Linked DNA regions of Homo sapiens: region 2 is linked to region 1. The links come from fine-mapping of genetic effects on gene expression. A gene starts in region 1. The other region holds a variant in brackets. All regions are shown on one strand. Distances are from middle to middle.

Region 1 (5,375 bases):
CATATATGCAAAATGATGCATGTACAGGGTCATTAGCTATAATGCTGAAATAGCAAAAGCTTGGAAACATTACTGCCTCAGTAGGAGACAGGTTAAGTAATTTGAGACATCCTTACAATAGAATTCTGAAGCAGCTGAAAAAGAACAAGGAAGCAATCACCAAGAAATACTAGGAAAAGGAAGAGCTCATATGTTATTCCACAATTTGCATAGAATATGGTGTATTTGCTGAAATGTGCACTATCTGGAAAGAGACACAGGAAACTAGCAACATTGCTGGCCTCCGTGAGGAAACTGGGCGGCCAGGGACTGGGATGAGAAAGAGATTTTCAAAATGCTTACCCTTTTGTACCTTTAAACTTTTGCACTGTGAGACTGTATTAGTTTTTTAAAGAAATAAAATTTAAAATTAAGAAATAAAATGTTAAGGCCGGGCGCAGTAGCTCACGCTTGTAATCCCAGCACTTTGGGAGGCCGAGGCGGACGGATCACGAGGTCAGGAGATCGAGACCATCCTGGCTAACACGGTGAAACCCCGTCTCTACTAAAAAAAATACAAAAAACTGGCCAGGCGTGGTGGCGGGCGCCTGTAGTCCCAGCTACTCGGGAGGCTGAGGCAGGAGAATGGCGTGAACCCGGGAGGCAGAGCTTGCAGCGAGCCGAGATCGCGCCACTGCACTCCAGCCTGGGCGACAGAGTGAGACTCCATCTCAAAAAAAAAAAAAAAAGAAAGAAAGAAAGAAAAGAAAAAGAAATAAAATGTTAAAAACATCGTAAACATTAGTGAGACACAGCCCTAAGACTATTAGACTATTGCCCAATCTAGCATAAGACAATATGTCCTTCTTATTTGAGTGCTCGCATTCACTCCATAATAAGATAGATTTGGAATAAACTCTATTCCAAACACAGATACCTAAGAGATCCAAAGTTAATTCACTTTCAGGGACCTCCGACAAGATACAGCTAGTTTTAAGAGAAAACACCAGGACTAGCAGAGATCTGAGGAAAATATTCATCTTGCTCAAGTTAACCTAGAAAATGACAGGCTGTCTATTTTGTGCAATTTATTTATTTCTCAACTTTAAGGTTCAGAAATCTCTGTCCTGTAACAAGGTATCTGTTACCGGAGTCTGATTATTCTGCACTGTGTAGGTCATGTTTGTTATGAGGACACTTAGCAAACAAAGAAGGTTTTTCTCCGCCCTCAATAGCGTGGTAACGGATGACAGGACACCACTTTCAACGAAGGAGACAGACATTTCCCTGGCCTTTCTGAAGAGCGCTTTTTGGAGAGACAAACCTGTTGCTCAGGGGCTGAGCATTCCCGTGTGTTCTCCCTGTACTTCACCTAAAAATATGCCTGTTTTCCACACTGTGCACACCCGGGGGTGGGTGCTGGGCATACTCCACCTGCTTGTTTGCCTCCCGTTTTCTCATCAGGGAGTAAACACAGTAAACCTAACGCTCCAGGGGAAGGAAAAAACAAATCATTCAGGGCCCATCTCAGGTGACTGATGAATGCGGCACCGTTTTGAACGGGTACCTAATCTGGTCCAGATATGCCTGCTGGGGCTGCAAGAACCAAGACACGTTCAAGCACGTTTGCTCCGGCAAGCTTGGGCGAGCAGGTCAAGACCTCAGAGTTTTAGAAAGCAGGGGCGAAGTTTTCAAGCACGATGGGAACACCTGTAGGTGCAGGTGCCTGAGGGTCGGCCGACCACCTCGCATCTGAGGCTGGATCCGCACACGGAGAACGACAACTGCTCACAGGGACGTGCGTCCGGAGGAAAGTTGCGGTGAGTGTCTACCTGTTCGAGACAGGTGGCCGAGAAAGTGGGGCAGGGCTGACAATTCTTCCTCCGCAGTGTCCCGCGGGCTCCCCCTGCACTGGGTCCCCGGGGCCCCGGGCGCCCCAAGGTCACCTGCCCTCCTCAGCGCCCCCACCTTGCCCAAGCTCTCACCAGAACAGCAGGTTGGCAGCGACGAAGCCGAGCAGGCTCCGCAGCGGCCTCTTCCAGCTCAGCAGCTCGTCGGCGCGGCAGCCCAGCCACAGCACCGGCTCCCCGAGCAGCCAGGTTACCGCGGCCGCCGCCCGGCCCGCGGCCTCCTCCACCTGCAACCCCGCGCCCTCCGCCGCCCCAGCTTCCTGCGCTTCCTCCTCCTGCTGCTGCCGCTCTGCGGGGGATGCCTGGGGCGGTGGCGGCGACGGCGGCGCCTGCTCCTCGGCGGCAGGAGCCGGGCATCCCTCCTCGGCGTGCTCCGGAGGCGCCGGGCTCGCCATCTTCAGCTGTGCTTCCAGACAGGGACGGGGCCGGGCGCGCGCGCGGGCGCGCCTGGGTGTGGGTGCCGCCGAGGGCGGGGCGGCGGTGGCGGCAGGTCCCGGAGCGGGGCGCGCACCGCGGGGCACAGGCGGCTGGGGGCCTTGTGACGCCACAGGCCACGGAGGGGGAGCCGCCCGGGAAAGTGGGTGCGGCCGAGTTCGCGCAGGGGCGGGGCCGGGCGCCGGGAGCTGGGCGGTGTCCCCGGGGGGCTCTGGGTTCCTGGAGGGCCTCTCCGGGACTCGAGGAAAACGACCTTTTCCCTTGCAGCGGCGGGAGAGGGCGAAGTGGAGGACTGCTGCTCGGTTCCGTATCCAAAAGAGACCCAAGGCTCCAGGCAAAATAGATTGGACATTTTCACTTTCTCAAGCCAGGGCCACCGGTCGCCCAACCAGCAGCCACTGAGGGTGGTATCGGGGCGCCCCTTCCCCTGGCAGCGTATTTCAGCCCCCAGAGACATCCCCCACCTCGGCCATCCCCAGCGCCTTTGCAGGGACAGCAGCACAACCATAGCAGAGGTCCTGGGCATCCTGGAAATAACGTGCTGGTATAAATGTTGGATTGAGAAAGGAAGAAAAAACATTTGGGGTCAATTTGGGGCCCTCTCGTTTGACACGGGAGGAAACACAAGGCCGCAGCGTTGGGGGAAGCTGCTTCCTTTCTCTCTCTTCTTTCTCTCTGTCTCAGGTGCTTCCTTTCTCTTCTCTGTCTCTCTCTCTCTCTCTGCCTCTCCCTCTCTCTCCCCCGTCTCTCCCCCTATCTTCCCCTCTCTCCTCCTATCTCCCCCTCTCTCCCCCTCCTTGTGGCTAGGTGATCTGGCTCAGAAGTGCACGTTGGCCCGCGCGTGCGGGGAGCTGAGAAGCAAGAGATTGGAACTTTGCACGTGTCAAGCAAGGTTTGGCCTGCTTTGAAGACAGTAATTTCAGAGCCACTCCGGTCTCTGCGTCACAAGCGGGCATCAGGGCAGTGGTGGGGCGGCAGGGGATCCTGAGACCTCCCATGCCCTCTCTTTGGCCCCGGTGCTTCTGGGTGAGTGTGGGGAGAGAGGAAAATAGTTGTTTATGCTTTTCACCATTTGCATTTTTAAATTTTTGTCTTCTTTAATCTTCCTGGTCTTACTTTTACTCTAGAATGACAGGTCCTTCCCCCCCATACTAAGGGTTCTGTCTGCGGATGCATCAGGGCATCTCATATCCCTTTACTGGCAACCAGCCTGCCTGCACAGGATGGAAGGGAGGGCAATTAAATTCCCTGCGTCAAGGGAGTCTCTAGGGGAATGTTCTGTAACGCTCCTCTGGGTGGCCATTGTAAACCTCTGTGTATACACACGTGGAATCCATTGATCTGTACATTCACTGCAGGTGTCTGCACTTTACTGCTTGTATGTTGTACTTCAAAGGAGTTATATTCCCAGAGCCCAGGCAAAGGCTTACTGAGCACCTACCGAGTACACAAAGCATTGCTAAGCTCTGTGGATGCAGCTTCCACCCACAGGAAGCTCCCAGTCTGATGAGGGCCCAGTTACAATTGTGATATCTGCCACAGCGAAGAAGCCTTCGCTAAGTGCTAAGAGATTCCTTACTTAAACTGTGCATCCAAAATTAGGGGAGGAGTGGAGGGATCAGGTTTCAAGAGCGTTTTGTAATAAATGGCCTCTGCCCTAAATTGTAGGGCCCCCATTAGTGTGGGGATTGGGGACAGGGGCAATAACTGCTGTTGGGAATTCAACAGGAGAGGAGGCATGGGGTTGCAGGTGGAGACGCACAGTTCCTTAAGTAACTCACCAAAGGGAATAGTGGACATTGAATGGTCTCTAGTAACAGGAGGCTTGGTTTTTAACTAAAGGTGATACAGAACATCTGGCATTTCCGACTCCCCTTCTTAGGAGTATCCTGACAACCCGATGGAAAGTGGCCTGGGTGTCAAGGAAAAAGCAACGTGGAAACAATTCAGGTTTCTTCCATATAAGAGAGACAATCTTTTCCCAGGTGTGGGTCCTCCCTCTTGGCAGTAGCGGAGAAGTTTTTGAAAGATAAATGATGCTTTTATTGTGTCATTTGGCCTTTGTTTGGCGCTTGATACAGCCCAGGGTTTGCTATTCTAAAATCTGTCACTAGACAGATGTGTGCTGCAGCCAGTGTGGAGAACATGGGGCAGGAGAGAGGAAGAACCAGGTGTCCCCGTTCCCCAGACCAGTGCTGATGTGCTACCAGAAATGGGTTTGCAAGATTAATCACCTTCCTCCTGCTTCCCTTGAATTCTAATTATTGTTGTCAGGATCTGTTGAAGTAGTAAAAGCTGCTGGCAACCAAGACACATAAAAGCTAAGCTCCAGTTGCTGTGTGTGGTTTCCAACACTTATTTATTATCTCTGTTTAATAATAAACCTCCTTCCCCACAGCTATGTGTTGTAAAGTCTATCCTTTCTCTCTCTCTCAAAATTACTATGGAGAAAATGCTATGCAACCTGTTTTGCATAAAAGGCTGGGCTAATTAACCTTTCCTTTTCACCTCCGACCTCTAATACTTACAAACTGTATGACAGAAGTAGACACTGGCATAGACATACAAATGGTGCTGCTGGGTGGGATTTTGTTGTTGTTTTGTTGTTTGTCTAATGATCTTTGTGATGCTTGAGTAATTTATTCAGGGCTAAGATTACAGAAACATAATGCTAACAATGGTTGAAATCAACCTTGTCCCCTAGTTTTAAGAACACGCCACATTCTTGAACTCCTGCAAGTAATCTTACTAAGATTCTCTTCTGAAATTTTATTGCTATATATTAGGAACAGAGTGATTAACACTAGTGAGCTAGATGATTTGACAATATATATCTGAGAAAAGGAAACTGGAAACGTGTCTGAGAAAAAAAAAAGTTCTAGCTACTGAATGAGAGTTTAGAAAATGAGACAGCTCCAGTAAAGAAAGTCCAAATGCACATAAGAACTCTCTAACAGAGGCCACTCACTTTTCTCATCTAAGAGTATGTGGAAAGCTTGTAATAGGAGAGGAAAAATTATGAATAATTAATTCCCACTATAGGAAGTCTCC
Region 2 (5,375 bases), 830 kb after region 1:
AGGATTCTGTAGGTCAAGAAGTGAAACACAACCAATAACAGCAGGTGACAGGATTTAAACCTGGGTCACTTTACTTATTTTTTTCTACTCTATCATTATGTGAATCTATCCTACCTCTGCAATGACAGATGGCCCTAGAGCAAGAACACTTCCTTACATCTGGTATACAGTCAAAAAGTAAAAATTCCACACAAATAAATATGGAAAGAATTTTTACCTGCTCCTATAGCTTCCTTTCAGGGACCTGGCACCCACAAATGTTGGGTAACAGAAAGAGGACTTATGTAACTTAACTCAAAGCAGAAAAGTTACAGAGACTGTCTTAGCATAATAGAGCATGGAGTGGTCATGCTTGGATGTGCAAACTGTCTGATAGTCTTGCACATGGCTTGACCCCGAATTACACTAGTGGGGCAAGTTGCCTGGGGCAAAGCAAACTTATTGGACCCAAAGCTCTCATTTGAGAATTTTGTTGACTAAAAGTTATAAAATATCAGCAATTTCATATGGTTCAGCCTAATATTTTATCACTCTTCCTTTTTCTATTCTAAAACAATAATTTTTAATAACGTAAGCTATACACATACATGCTTTAAACATACAACACCCTGACTATCATATAGTGGATATTTCAAGAAGTAAATGTTCAGCATGTCTTCACCCCCACTTGAAGACATAATGTATGTATTAGGCTGTTCTGGCATTGCTATAAAGAAATACCTGAGACTGTGTAATTTATAAGAAAGGAGCTTTAATTGGCTCACGGTTCTGCAGGCTGTACAGGAAACATATTGGGTCTACTTCTGTGGAGGCTTCAGGGAACTTTGACTCATGGTGGAAGGTGAAATGAGAGCAGGCACCTCATGTGACTGAAGCAGGAGCAAGAAAGAGAGAGCGAGCAAGGTGCCACACACTCTTAAACAACCAGAACTCTCTCTTGAGAATTCACTCACTGTCTTGCCGTCAGCACCAAAGGGATGGTCCTAAACCATTCATGAGAAATCCTCCTCCATGATCCAATCACCTCTCACCAGGCCCTACCCCCAACACTGGGATTACAATTCAACGTGAGATTTGGGCCTGGACACAGATCCAAACCCTATCAATATATTAGCCAGATACTTGCAGCTGTATGAAGAATACCCTGGTTACCCAGCTACAAATGCAGATGTTATTGATAAGGGAGGGGGGCAGGGAAGTGCTGGGAGGAGAAAGCAGGTCTCTGGCGAGGGCTTCACCCCGGTGCCTGTGCCCACAGACCTAGGTAAGGGCAGGCACTCCTGCCTTTGCGCCCAAATGTTGCATTTCCCAAGACCACCCTGGCCCACCACGCCCCCATCCTGTGCCTATAAAAACCCCGAAACACTAGTGGGCACTCACACAAGCGGCTGGACGTCCAGAGGACGTCAACAAGAGCACGCCGACAGGCAGACCCTGGCAGGCCATCGACTGGCGGAAGGACATGGAGTTTGGCTGCGTGGTTGGAGGAGAGCCAGGCCGCTAGGTGGCCTGACTCCAGGAAACTACACCTTCCCACTCCATCTCCCTTCTGTCTCCCCTGTCTGCTCACAGCTACTTCCTCTCAATAAAACCTTGAACTCATTCTCCAAGCCCACGTGTGATCTGATTCTTCCGGTACACCAAGGCAAGGACCCTGGGATACAGAAAGTCCTCTGTCCTTGAGATAAGCCAGGGGGTCTAATTGAGCTGACTAACACAAGTCGCCTACAGATGGCAAAACTAAAAGAGCACCCTGTAACACACGTGTGCCCACTGGGGCTTCAGCTGTAAACATTCACCCCTAGACACTGCTCTTGGGTTGGAGCCCCACAACCCAGCCGTCCGCATGCTCCCCTAGAGGTTTGAGCAGTGGGGCACGGAAGAAGCGAGCCACTCCTCCTGTTGCACACCCTGCGGGTGGCGCAAGGGAACGTTTCCTGTTTCATCATCAGGGATATTGTATCGGTGTCTTAAATAACACTAGCATTTTGACATATTTGGAGCTGCTACTGGGCCAGCTCTGTTTCCAGGCCTGCCTTTCAATCTTTTCCTTGCTTCTGGCATGAGTTACCATCTCTTTTAAGAAATTGGTTATGCATTTGAAAATACACGTAGCTATACATACTTTAAACATATCATTTAGCAAGGATGCTCCTTATCGGACCGTTGCTGGGAACAGAGAACACGACAGTTCCAGGTGAGCGAAATAGTGTGATCTCATACATGATGAAAGCTAAGCAGGCAACAGCTTTTCCGTAAGCAAGCATTTCAAAATGTATTTGTAGAAAGGCAGTAAAAGAATAAGATGCAAATCAAGCTATTTTTAAACCATCGTTTTCAGGGCCAAGGAAGAAATTATGAGAATGAATTTTTTAAAAAAAGATTATAAGGTCTTTAGTGGTGTTTTTAGTTGAAGTAATTTAGAGATGATTAGGTATTGCTATTTTTTATTCAATTCTTTACAACAAAAGCTTACAGAAATAGAAAGCTTTGCCATTTCTTTTCCCCACAACTTTAAAAAGTAAAGAGTGAGTGTTGGGTCACAATAATCTTTCTTTTTTAGTCTCCTTTTTGTGCAAATTCATCCACCATCAAATTACATTGTACTCCTTCCTCCTCTGTGACTACCTGTGGAAGAATGTTTATATAAATAAACCCAAAGGCCTGTCTTTTTGTCTGTTGCTCTGAGTAAGTGGTGCAAAATAGATGCCTTAGTCTGGTGATTTGATTTAATACAAATGGACCTTGTTAGAACACTTCTTTACACCTGAGATATTGGGAGATTTACTTGTAACCTTCCTTGCTACGTGAACAGCAGTAGTATTTGCTGTTTCTAAGATGTGTTGTAGTTTGAAAGATTTTGTTTGTATCATGCCAAAGTGACTGCATTAAGAAGTTCCTAGTTGACTGATTAAAACAAAACAAAACAAAACTCCTTTAATCATTCAGCTGTTTGACCTATGCTAGTGTATAGGTGCTATACACAATTATATATTTTGATGCTTTCTGTTTTATTATGTGGCAGTGTGTAGTCCCAGTATTTATGCTAATTATATCGTTCTTTGGAATCCAGTTTTTCTTTTTGTAAATTTGGATTAAAGTCTATCATGGCTCCTTTCAAAGAGAGCACTAAATGTAAATGGAGGGTTCTTTGATACCATTAGAGAGATGGGACTGAGATCTCAAAGAAATAGGCTGCACTGGCTCTGGGGTGAATGGGTCCTATGACTTGTAGGGCTTCAGAGTAGGACACACAACT[CT/C]GGGGCTAAAGCTCAGGACATTGGCCATGCAGTTGAACATTTCTGCCCGTTCTTTCCTGGTCCTGCCCTGTGCAATTTCCAGCTTCTGTAAATACATATTGAAGGTATGTATACATAGCAAAGGTGTGCCAAAGTGTACAGTTGCTCAGATTATTTGCACACCTTGGTTTGGCCCTGGCCAGTTGAAGGAGTCATGAGGAAATACCTTGCTGCGATGACTTCTGTCATTCATTTCTCTGTGTATATTGGTACTAATTGATTTTTTTTGGCAGAGTTTAAAGTACTTTTGAACTTTTCCCCTTTCTTCTCTCCTCTGCTTCTTTTTCCAGACTGTTTCCAAGATTGGATGAAGAGATTCAATTGACAATGCTGTGAAGAGAGGGATTTGGAGCTTGTTGGGGGAGGTAGTGTTGACTTCCTTGTGCAATCTAGGATTGAGTGGGGGATGCAGTTGGAAGGCAAGAGAAGTAAGACTCCTCCATCTTCCTGGTCCAGAGAAATTATGCTGGATCCCCCTACCCTTAATGAGAAAGGAGGTGTTTGTGTTTCCAGCATCTATGAGATCTGATTGCTAATGTAGCTACCTTTAAAGAATTCTGCTATTTACAATAAAAGTGAGATCTCCCTCCTCCATCCTGTGTTACACAGCCTGGGATTGCACCGTTGTTCCTGGCACCTTTGCATTGCAGGAGCCTGCCTTTGACTTTCTTTCCTCTCCACACATCTTCTATTCCTGCTGCTTCTCTTTTCAGAAAGTGCTGAGCTTCTAGGCTAGTGTCCCTCTCAACGGATGAATATTCAGCAGAGAATGGAGAGCTTTCAACCGTAAGAATCAGGATGTGGCTGTTTATAAAGTTATTGCATTTTTTTGAAGAGTGGCTGCAATTAGTTTTGGTGTTAGGCAGCAAAAACCCCAAAATGTTCTTTCTGATTTCATGTTGCTTGCATAATACAGATACCCATTTACTGGAAGAAATCTTCATGGGTAAGTGTATGAGTGTGTATGCATAAGTATGTGTATGTGTGTGTGTGACTCCACATATATTCCTAGAGTGCCTTCTATGTGCCAGGCATGGTGTTAGTTGACATATGTAATTGAGAGTAAAACAGTCATGATCTCTGCTCTTAACCAATTTACAATCTAGGATAAAATAGACCTTCCATGTTCAAATCCACAATGACATTAATTGCAATATGATCATTGTTGTGCTTGAATAATAGCTAAGAAAAGCACAAAGAACTTACAAGGTGGCTTAACAGAAGAACATCATCTAGCTTAGAAGTCTGGATAGCCCCTTTCTAAGAAAGCGGTACGAGTAAGGATGAATAGGAATAGGCCAGATAAAATACGAAGCCAGGAGTTGGAGGTGGACACGGGGGAGGGAGGTGACATTGTACTGATGGAGAGATGTGGAGAGCTGAGGAGGCTGATGAATGTAGAGAAAGTTGAAGTGTCACTGGATTGCAGTTCTTGATAGGTAGAAGTGTTGTATGAGGGGACGAAAACAAGGCCATTGGAAAGGGAAGTTGAAGATGGTGGTGGTGGTGTTTGTGAAGGTATTTATATTATTGCAGAATTATCTGAAGTGCAGTTTCCAATGTTAACCAAATTCATGGTGTGACTGTGGAAGTTGGTGCTTGAGGTGAATGATGACAACTATCAGTGGGTATCAGGGTAAGGAACTGCTGGGCAAGGTGTTGATGGTGCATCCAAGTGATGTTAAATCTGCTTAGCATGATGGTAGGGTTGGGTGAAAAGGAGACTATGAGTTGAGTGCTAAATTCTTTAAGGAGTGACCAAATGATTAAGTGAGGACTAGAGGGAGAAGAAGCTCTTATTGTCAACTACTCAAAGGAGCAACTTACAAAAGAGAGTGCAGTCATTCGTCTGCAAGTGGCATTGGGTAGTCAGGAGGACGTTGCCTTGGTTCTGATACTGAGATATTTGGAGTTTGATGGAAAATATCTCCCAGCCCCTGCTTGAGAGGAGAAGCAGTATCCTTAGGGGACAGTGGGTTTCAGTGAAGTCGAGAAACTGTGGTGTGTGTGTGTGTGTGTGTGTGTGTGTGTGTGATAACTTTGAGATAATGATGGGTTAGAAACATGTAGATTAAG

The links. PIP is the estimated chance that this variant, and not a neighbour inherited with it, causes the effect. A credible set is the group of variants that fine-mapping cannot tell apart.
Region 2: its variant is the best candidate, but not a certain one, in a credible set for the expression of RETREG1 in neutrophils (Naranbhai 2015, PIP 0.87).

The regions. Positions count from the first base shown.
Region 1 is chr5:16,614,688-16,620,062 of GRCh38, forward strand. It overlaps RETREG1 (reticulophagy regulator 1), which reads right to left and starts at 2,310. Exons shown (of 9, transcript NM_001034850.3): 1 at 1,965-2,310. The coding sequence starts at 2,284. RETREG1-AS1 (RETREG1 antisense RNA 1) reads left to right here and starts at 1,239. Exons shown (of 4, transcript NR_109946.1): 1 at 1,239-1,799. RefSeq lists a silencer at 2,064-2,553.
Region 2 is chr5:17,442,038-17,447,412 of GRCh38, forward strand. It overlaps LINC02218 (long intergenic non-protein coding RNA 2218), which reads left to right and starts at 1,973. Exons shown (of 3, transcript NR_134270.1): 1 at 1,973-2,197. The variant CT/C (reference allele first, on the strand shown) is at 3,260.